Linked DNA regions of Homo sapiens. The protein of the gene in region 3 interacts with the protein of the main gene of each other region in a biochemical or structural test. Each region holds a gene or a part of one and is shown on either strand. Other genes may lie near its edges. The genes, in order: CDK1, MAPK8 and PKMYT1.

What was found.
Region 1: of the proteins of PKMYT1 (region 3) and CDK1, one has a biochemical effect on the other in vitro, tested with the Homo sapiens proteins (2 studies listed by BioGRID and IntAct).
Region 2: the proteins of PKMYT1 (region 3) and MAPK8 form a complex in vitro, tested with the Homo sapiens proteins (one study listed by BioGRID).

Annotation. Positions count from the first base shown.
Region 1 is NC_000010.11:60,781,478-60,784,977, forward strand, and holds part of CDK1 (cyclin-dependent kinase 1), read left to right. Parts: intron 1-3,227; coding exon 3,228-3,384; intron 3,385-3,500. UniProt on the Homo sapiens protein: Plays a key role in the control of the eukaryotic cell cycle by modulating the centrosome cycle as well as mitotic onset; promotes G2-M transition via association with multiple interphase cyclins.
Region 2 is NC_000010.11:48,421,564-48,425,298, reverse strand, and holds part of MAPK8 (mitogen-activated protein kinase 8), read right to left. Parts: intron 1,212-3,735; coding exon 1,140-1,211; intron 786-1,139; coding exon of another isoform or gene 714-785; intron 1-713. UniProt on the Homo sapiens protein: Serine/threonine-protein kinase involved in various processes such as cell proliferation, differentiation, migration, transformation and programmed cell death.
Region 3 is NC_000016.10:2,974,823-2,977,626, forward strand, and holds part of PKMYT1 (membrane-associated tyrosine- and threonine-specific cdc2-inhibitory kinase), read right to left. Parts: exon of another isoform or gene 2,247-2,804; coding exon of another isoform or gene 2,210-2,246; coding exon 1,842-2,209; intron 991-1,841; coding exon 497-990; intron 1-496. UniProt on the Homo sapiens protein: Acts as a negative regulator of entry into mitosis (G2 to M transition) by phosphorylation of the CDK1 kinase specifically when CDK1 is complexed to cyclins. Mediates phosphorylation of CDK1 predominantly on 'Thr-14'. Also involved in Golgi fragmentation.

The DNA.
Region 1 (3,500 bases), on a different chromosome or scaffold from region 3:
TAACACGAAAGATATGATTCAATTGAACAATATTATGGAAAGCATTTGTTATGAGCGCTTTAACTCAGAAAACCTTCAAATGTTTATCATTTGAACATTGTATTATTACTATGAACACTGTCTCCAAAACCATCTCTTCACCAGCTCCATCTAATGCCACTTAACTCTTAATTTGGATTTCTTTGATGTCCTCAAATGTATCCTGTGATTTGGCCTATGAGTTTTGGCAATGGCTGTTCTTTCTACCTGGAGGCCAGTTTCTACTGGCTTCATTTTTTATCTCCTCCTCTAGTCCAAGAGCATTTTGTAGTTCCCTTTGCATCATACCATAGGATCCTTGAGGGCTGGGGTTTTTGTCTTGTTCACAACTGTTTGCCCACTGCCTATCAGTAGTGCCCAACCCACAGGAGATAGCCAAATAGATAATAATAACATCTGTTTTCCTTGTTTGCTCTTCTGAACACTGTTGTTTCTTTTTCTGGCTTGTATTGTCATTTCTACTCCAATGCCTGATTGTTTTGGATTATGTGCTGGATATTGTTTTGGAAAAAGGAACTTGTGGAAATAAATGGAGGCCTAAATGATTCACACAGAATTTTCTTTTGGTTCTGCCAGGTATCTGGTTAAAGTCTAGTATTAAAATACTACTTTAAAAGTTATATTTTTTCCCCTCAACTTTTCATTTTGAACATCTCCAAATCTATATTGAAAGATTTATGCAATGAACTTGTAATATTTTTACCAAGATGTTGGTGTTTTGTCATGTTTACTTTATTATCTGTATGTATGTTAGCATTATTTTTTATTTTTTTCATTGACATTAATTCTGATTTAGAACAGTCTCTGCCTTTTCTCTCACTTGACAGTGAGTCTTGACAACCTAATTCATTTCTTAAATACCTCCAGACTTTACTATTTTAAATATTACAAAAATTGTTCTCTGGTTTCTTCTGAATTACAGAAATCTGAGTGTTGTGATACTAATCTTTGAAATCCTTCCTGTCTTAAGAAAATGTCTTTTTGGATCATAGAGTAGCAGTATCCATGATGGTGGAACCTTGCCTGGCATTTAGTAGGCATTTGATAAATACTTGCTTAATGAAGGTTTTCTGCTTAAGGGCCTCCATAACTTGATCATATCCTACATATTTTTCTTTTGTTTCTTTTTGTTTCCTGGGATAAATCTTCCATTAGACTTAGACTGATCTCCTTCTAGGCTTACCTGTGTTAATGATTTTTGCCTCCTTAGTTATTTATACTTAGTTAAATACCCTAGAGTATTTCTGTCTTTAGAATTCTTAGTTCATTTTGGAGGATATGCCATGTATTTCAAAAATAATTTTGGATGATTAACCAATAGAAAGTTCTGCTTTGTTTAACCCCTCTTCCAGTAGTTCAGTGAGAAGTGATATTATCTCTAAAATTCAACACATTGAGTGTTGGCCACTGGTTAATTGTTAATTCTGAAAATTATTTAGGATTAGATGAGATTGTACACTTGAGGGAGAAGAAAGGATGCTAGAAAAAAAATTAGTTCTGAACTTACCATTAACTGTTTATGTGACTGTATTATGCAAGTGACTAATTTTCCTGAGATCACTTAAACAGTATGCCAGATGATTGTGCTACTGGTTTACCTACTTTTTGTGTTTAATGAGAGCTGAATTTACATCCAAAAAAATGTAGATTTTAAGTATATGAAGGTTGCCTACTTTTAAGGATGGCTGTGAGGATTAAATATAGTCAATTCTCCTTTAATGTAGAGTAATTTTGGTTATCAAAAAGTTATACATTAATCCACAATTTAATCAAAATAGTATAAAATGACTCATGTCAGTTTATAGTTTTAAAATGACACCAGTATTTAAGAAAACATAGACTTTTGTATAGAGGTTCTGTCAAAAAAATTAAGCTTAAGTAGCATCAATTTGCTACTGCTCAAACTGCTTAATTTTTTAACCAAGCAGTTGGTAATTTGTTGGTTGTTAGCCTTTTTTAAAATATTGCTACTTTCAGAGAAACTCATAAAAGCTATAGAAGAGGCCTTCTTCCTAGAACAGTGCACTCTAATCACTTTTGAAGTTAAACCAATGCCATGGAAAGCAAGCTATTCAACAAAATTTTGTGTGTACTTAAGGGGTTCAGGACCTCCCTAAACTCCAACTCGAGTTTAAAAAGACTTATCTAGGGAATTCAGCCACGTATATGACAGATTTTAGCTAGTCTTCTCCCTTATTGCCATTTCATTCCCTGTATCCACCTCCTCCCTCCCTGCTATCCCTTATAATTGATATTGTTGCTCATTACCTGAAGCCCATATATCAAAATCAGTATTTTCATCAACTTGCAAATGGGTGTGAGGCTTTCCTAATATGTAGTACATACAATGTGCTTTATTAGGTTTAATACACAAACACCTGGTCTTTTTTCTCCATTCTTTTGAGAATGAGGACTGTTGACTGTATTTTGAGATACAGATAAAAGTGTTTTGAAAAGCATAAAGCACTCTACAGTATTTTCTGAAAGTGTCATAATGACTTTTATCAGTAATATTTCCTGAGCCCAAATTTTTACACTATATTTTATGCCCACTTCGTTGCAGGGTAGGATATTGACAGAAGGTTAATTTTAATTTGCAAATGATCTATTTTGTTCTGTAAAATATGCTGGAACATTAATGGTAATTTAGATGTATAGAAAACTTGTGATGACTACATGAATTTTATTTTTAAGCCATACAGATTGTAGTTACTCTCAATTTCTTTTTGGAAGCAATGAGGGTATGAGTAAGATACTTCCCATATGGCCACACCAGACATTTCTATCATGTGACCCTTATGGGATTCAATGATCTTGAAATCCTTTAGTTTGACCAGGTGCGGTGGCTCACGCCTGTAATCTCAGCATTTTGGGGCGGCGAGGCAGGTAGATTGCTTGAGCTCACGAGTTCCAGACTGGCCTGGGCAACATGGTGAAACCCCATCTCTACCAAAAAGACAAAAATTAGCCGAGTGTGGTGGCATGTGCCTGTAGTCCCAGCTACTTGGGAGGCTGCCGTGGGAGGATCCCCTGAGCCCAGGAGGAGGAGGTTGTAGTGAGCCTTGATTGACCCACTGCACTCCAACCTGGACAAGAAAACAAGACCCTGCCATAAGGAAAAAAAAAAAGAAAAAAAGATCTTTAGTTTGTGGGGTGTGTCACACAGCATATTATTTACTTTGTTTCAGGTACCTATGGAGTTGTGTATAAGGGTAGACACAAAACTACAGGTCAAGTGGTAGCCATGAAAAAAATCAGACTAGAAAGTGAAGAGGAAGGGGTTCCTAGTACTGCAATTCGGGAAATTTCTCTATTAAAGGAACTTCGTCATCCAAATATAGTCAGGTATGTTGTAATATCTGAATGTAAGCCATTTTCTGCATGCTATTTCAAATATAAATTTCAACTTGGAAATCTTTACATTTGCTCAATTTCTTGGTCTAGCCTTACTGAGTGGACTA
Region 2 (3,735 bases), on a different chromosome or scaffold from region 3:
TGTAAGGTTAGGATTTCTTGGTCTCCTTTCCTCTAGTCTTTACACTCCAGGACCCTGAAGGCCAAGGCCTAAAACTCACTTATTGTAACCTTGTGAATATGCCTTTTCCCATTCTTCCTCCTGAAACAATTCTAAGTGTTACTAGCTGGTAAACACATAACAAATCACTGTTAATATAAATATTAAAAGTAGTGGGATGAACAAAAAGTATGAATCCAAAGCTATCGTTACCATACAAAACTACTACTGCTGAAATTCTCAGATGAAAGGGTCAGTATGTTATGTGAGTAATGAGACAACAATCAAAAGACACAAACCACACAGAACATTAACAAAAAGGAGGTAGGGGACAAAACAAAAGGATGGCCAGAAGCAACAGACAGCTCCAAAATTCATATTAAGTTGTACGTATTTCTAGACTTAAGTGTATAATTATTATAAATTTTTAATGCAAGCCATGATTTTTGATTTAGGTTAAATCAACTCAAAGCCAGCAAGTAATTGTGCATAATTACAATTGAGCAGGGTTCAGAATTAACATATGAAACAATAAATAACGGAAGGAAAAGTCTATGTCAAATAGTAGGTGGTATTTTAAGAGTAATTTAACAATATATTAGGGAGAGACAAAATACATTATACCTGACCAAACTGAAGTGCTATCATACATTTTGACCTTTAGAAACTACATTTTAGGCCAAAGATAAGGATACGATCTGTACCTGGGAACAAAACACCACCTTTGATCATTTCTCCCATGATGCACCCAACTGACCAAATGTCAACTGAAAACAAAATGCAATGACATTAACATAAAGATTTTGGTTAAAATAAAAAAAAAAAGAAAGAAATAAAATCACACACACCATGTATACTTTAAAATTATAAAAAGCAGTATAAAATAAAAATGAGTGACAGTGAATGTGCTCTGACTACCAGCAGAGACTGTATGTCCTACTGCCAGATGCAGCCTACAAATATTTCAGCTTCTTATCTCAACAATTTTTGAACTATAATAGCCACAAACTTTATGCCTGTTTAAAAACCCATCTGTGTAAATGTAGCATATTCATTTTCATTAGAGAACATAAAGAAGTTCATCGCCTAACTAATTAACTGCTGCAGCAGCACAAGGATACAGTCCCTTCCTGGAAAGAGGATTTTGTGGCAAACCATTTCTCCCATAATGCACCCCACAGACCATAAATCCACTATATGTTTGCAGCACAAAAGAAGGAAAAGCAAAGCAAAAGGTCATTAAAATCAAAGAAGCATAATATGACTGCATTATATAAAAACTGCAAAACGTCACGAAAAGAAAAAAAGTGATTGTAACTTTAGCTAACGGAATAATTTAAAACACAAATTATTTTTTGAAAGTCTGGTTCACAAAAGAAAATGTAAAGTGTGGCATTTTAACTACATATCTAATTTCAAAGTGAGAGCTATGCACAGAAATTGCATAAATAGAAAAACCCTGCATGTTTGTCCCTGAGAACTTGTTTATAAAATATGAAATAGAACCAAACACAAACTTTGTAAATAAAAATGTACATGAGGTAGTAAAATTATAAAAATAAAATTGTTATACTATACTATTTAGAAGTTCAACTGTGCATTATACTCTCTAAGAAAAAAGCATGAGAAAATAATTCAGCATATTAAAATATCTAACAGAAATAATCTCTATGAATAATTATGATAAAAAAGTTAATCTAAAGCTCTTTGGAATTTTTAAACTGGATTTCCCAAATACATTTAACTGAGAAGTGCTATGCTTGTTCTGAATTAAAAGTCCATTTGTTTTCTTGGCAACATCATGCTACATTTACCCTACTATCCCAAAAGGAACAAGTGCACAGAGAATGAACAACTAATCAAGGAAAACTTAGTAAGAGAAATGTATTTCATGTTTCCTACCTAAAGTTTTTTAAACCCATAAAACCAAACTGCTTTTGGCTTAAGAAGTTAGTTTTGGCTAGATACAGTAAGTCAGTTCCCACGAATTGAGTATGAAGAGTCTCCTGGAAGACTTACTGATGACCCTTGCCAACTGTAAATGGGAATCCCAATCAATGTTGACAAGAATCTGCTAGACACAGAAACAGACAATTTGGAATCTCCACTTACTAAGGGAAACTGACAACACATCGTGGCATTTTATGCCTTTGGGTTTGAACATCACACAAAAAGGAGAGAGTAAGTGCTTGCAGTGTAACAGGAAAAGAGGGAAGAATGAGCAATTTAGAAGGAAAAGCCTTAGAAACTTGCATTTAGTTGTGACATCTGAAGGTCCCAATTCTTTAAAATGACAAGTGGAAAACGGCACAAATAGATGTCAGAAAGACACGTGCCCTTTACTCATGTTAAAGGACTTAGAAAATTAAAGCCTGTACTTTCTAATACAGTACATTCTTATTAAAAGGCTGCCAGTTCACTGAAGAGTCTTAAGAGCTAAACTGGAAATTACTTTTGGAAATACTGTGGAACTAAAGTTTCCCTAAAATGTCATATTAAAATGAATGAATATTTTCATATTTATGTCATGGTTCAGCTTTCAAGGATAAGATTTTAGAAAAAAAATTTAATATTTATAAATTAGTGCCTCAGAGAAAAATTTTTTCTAAGGTTTCCGTTTTTGACAAAAATCTATTAGAATAAATCTTCTCTACAGATTTTATAGAGAATGTTAAACTTTAAATATCCAGCTTACAACTTATTTGGTAACTTTCAGAAAAGCTCATTTTTAAACAAAAGTATTTTGAAAGCTGCAAGCATGAGAGAAGATATTATCTGGGCCAGTGAAGACTAGGAACATAAGTCTGATTCATGCACAACTCTAGCTGTAAACTAACTGCTTAGTCTATTAAGCAGTTAAAAATATATTGATTACACTGCTTTCCAAAATGCTCTGAGTAGCCTGCAATAAAAGGTACATAAAGCAAAGTTGTTAAAATGGGTGGGAGGCCAGGCGTTGTGGCTCAAACTCCTGTAATCCCAGCACTTTGGGAGGCTGAGGCAGGTGGATCACCTAAGGTCAGGAGTTCAAGACCAGCCTGGCCAACATAATGAGACCCTGTCTCTACTAAAAATACAAAAATTAGCCAGGCATGGTGGCACATGCCTATAGTCCCAGCTACTCGTAGGCTGAAGCAGGAGAATGGCTTGAAGCCAGGAGGTGGAGGCTGCAGTGAGCCAAGATGGCATGACTGTACTCCAGCCTGGGCAACAGAGTGAGACTCCATCTCAAAAATAAATAAATAAATAAATAAATAAATAAATAAATAAATAAGATAAATAAAATGAGTGTGAGGTGTCATTAAAAGGAGGAAGTACTTATGTTTAACCTTGCTGGCTAATGTAGTTATAATCATTAAGCATTACATTTGACTCCGTTTCCTAGGGTGGGAGTGGGAAGGCAAGAAGGTGATCTACATAATTCTTAACTAAAGAGGAACCATATGTCAGTTCATTTTTTATTCTATTTTATTTTTTGAGACAGAGTCTTGCTTTGTCGCCCAGGCTGGAATGCAGTGGTGCAATCTCGGCTCACTGTAACCTCCACCTCCCGGGTTCAAGCGATTCTCATGCCTCACCTCCAGAATAGCTGGGATTACAGGTGTGCACCACCACACCTGACTAATTTCTGTACTTTCAGTAGAGACAGGGTTTTGCCATGTTGCTCAGGCTGGTCTAGAACTCCTAGCCTCGAGTGATCCACGAGCCTCGGCCTCC
Region 3 (2,804 bases):
CTGGGCAGGATGGGGACATCATGGAATATGGGCTCTGTGCCCAGGGAGCCCACAAGCCACAGTGGTGAGTCCTCCCAGTGCCCTGATGGACAGGCACCACAGTTACTGCTGGCAGGTATTACTATCCTGATGATCAGGGCAGTGGTTACCAGTGTGGACCCTGGAACCCAGCACCTAGGGCCAGTCTCAGCTATGCCACTTGCTAGCAGTGGGCTCCGGCAAGGCCCTTAATCTGGCTGTAAATGGAGTGACAATTGTTTCTCCTGTGGAGCTGTGAGGAGGCAGGTTACACAAAGTGGCTCTGGAGGGTTCGAGGCTCACAGGCAGCCTGACCAGAGACGCTCTCCACTGGAGGGCAGGGATGGCGTCTCAGCCTTGTGGCTCTGAGGCCGGGTGTCCTGGGCTAGGGTGGAGCTTCCCTCCTGGGGAATGGAGCTTCCGTCCCAGGAAGGGCCTCCCACAGCCTGCCAAACACCTGGCGTGCCCCGGTCCCCACCTGAACACATCCGCTGCTGTCCCATAGGAGCCCTGCAGCAGCTCGGGGGCCATGTAGCGGGGGTCTCCCTCCTGGACCTCACCAGCTCCTGCTGTACCCAGCTCCACCAGCAGTCCGAAGTCACCCAGCTTGCAGCGGCCCCGGGGCCCCAGGAAGATGTTGGCAGGCTTGACATCAAGGTGCACCAGGCCCTGGCTGTGCAGATGGGCCAGGGCAAGCAGCGTGTCCCGCAGGTAGCCCCAGACCTGGGCCTCAGGCAGGCTGGCACCCCAGGCCTCACAGTGTTGCTGCAGGCTGGGCCCGCACAGCTCCGTCTGCAGGTACAGGATGCCGCCCTCCTCCCAGGCCTGCTCCAGCCGCACGCAGCATGGGTGCTGCCCCACCTTCTCGTGGCTGCCCACCTCGGCCAACTTGCGGGCCCGGTCCTTGGGGCCCCGGAATGGTGACATGGAACGCTTTACCGCATAGAGCCGGCCGTCCTCCTTGGAGCGCACCTGGAAGGGAGGTGGTACCCACGCACACAGTGAGGGTGAGCCACAAGTGGCACAATCACATAGGGGGACAACCTGGCAGACCCCATTAAGGGTTCACACACGGGGCACGGTGGTGTAGCTGGCATCTGTCTCAGACCCCTGCCCAGGGTAATAACAAAACCAGACAAACCTCCATCCCTCGGGCTGGGTCTGTGGAGACCCAGCGACGGAGGAGCCAGGGCCGACCTGCACTGACCCCAGGGGACCTCTTGGATGTGTCACGAGGTGGAAAAAGCAGCTGCAGAGCAACACAGGCAGCCCAGGCTGTGGTGTGAAAAGTGGGCTCCCCTGTGAGAAAGCTGACCTGGGGGCCAATGTTGTTTGTACTTTTTAACAAAATTGTCTTCATACAGGACTCATACAAGGGAAAACTCCTCTCTAAAAGAAAATATAAATGACTGGAAACTGTGTTTAAGAAAAGCAAGATGGCAGGCAGGGGGTAGCTCAAAGCCTGCCAGCCTGGGGAGGGCTGGCCAGGCACTGCACTCAGGGCCAGTGCCAGAGGCTGGGCCGACTCGCCAAGGACGCTGCACAGCTGGCGCCAGGGCCGGAGGAGATGGCACAGGGGCTGCTGCAGGGCGTGCCAGACTCTGGACAAGGGGCCAGTATGCACAGAGCAACCCCTGGAGGGGCCTGCATTGGGGATGATGGGAGCAGCCAAGTCAAATGTGGAGGGAGCCTGTGAGCCCAGCAGGGACAGGCTGTAGGGAACGGAAGGGGATCAGGCTGCCCAGGACACTGTCCTGCCAAGGGAGGTGCAGAAACACAAAGGAGGTCCCCCAGATGGGCCTAGAAGCCGTCCCCTCACTCACCTTGAAGACCTCTCCGTAGGAGCCATGGCCCAGGCGGCTGAGCCTCTGGAAGCTCTGCTGGAAGAAGGACTCTGGCCGGCTTGGGTCATACCCAGGGCTCTGCAGAGTCTCTGAGGCCTCGCCCCGGAATGACACCCGCCGGGGCTGCAGCTGGTGCCAGCCTGGGGTCCGAGGAGGGAAGAGGCGGCTGATGGGAATGCTGCCCTTGGCAGGGGGCGGAGGTGGGAGGCTCCGGCTGAGCCCCCTGGGCCTCTTGAGGGAGAATCCAGGTTCTGCGTGGCGGAAGTAGGCTGGGACTGGGATGGGGGTGCCACTCAGAGGTGGCGGGGTGCCCTCCGTGGGCATGGGCATGGCCAGTGCAGGAGGCCCTGGGGGCAGAGACAGAGGCTGAGTACAGGGCAGCATGTCCACTCTGATACCACCTGGCCCTGTGGCTCCAAAGAGGCCACAGAAGAGAGCTATGTCTATACCACACACTTATTCTACTTTAAACGGCAATGGGAGCAATAAGCACCTACCAAGAAAAGGCAGAGGACAGATTCATACTCACCTGCCCACCAGGCTGTTGTATTTTAGAGATGATAGAAACATAAGAGGAAAACCATGGGGCCCGTGTTCTTGAGGGTCTTGCAGTCGGGTTAAGAGCAAGGCAGTTTGGAGTCAGACGGGCTGCGCCTGCATCCCTGCCCTCATCACGGCCAGCTCTTTGATCCTAAACTACACAACCTCTTCCGAGACTACACGGGCCCACGATCCCTTATCTCCAATTCCAAAGTGAAAACCCGGAATCCCTCAAGTGTCTTTCTTTTTCATAACTGTCGTGCCAAAACCCAGTTAGTGGTGTCCACTTCCAGAATGGCAGTGTGTGCAGCTCCGTGGACCCCTGCCCCAGTGAAACAGCACAACTGATGACGATTATTCAAAAGCAAGCACTGAAAGCCTCTGGGCATGGTGCCCAGGGCA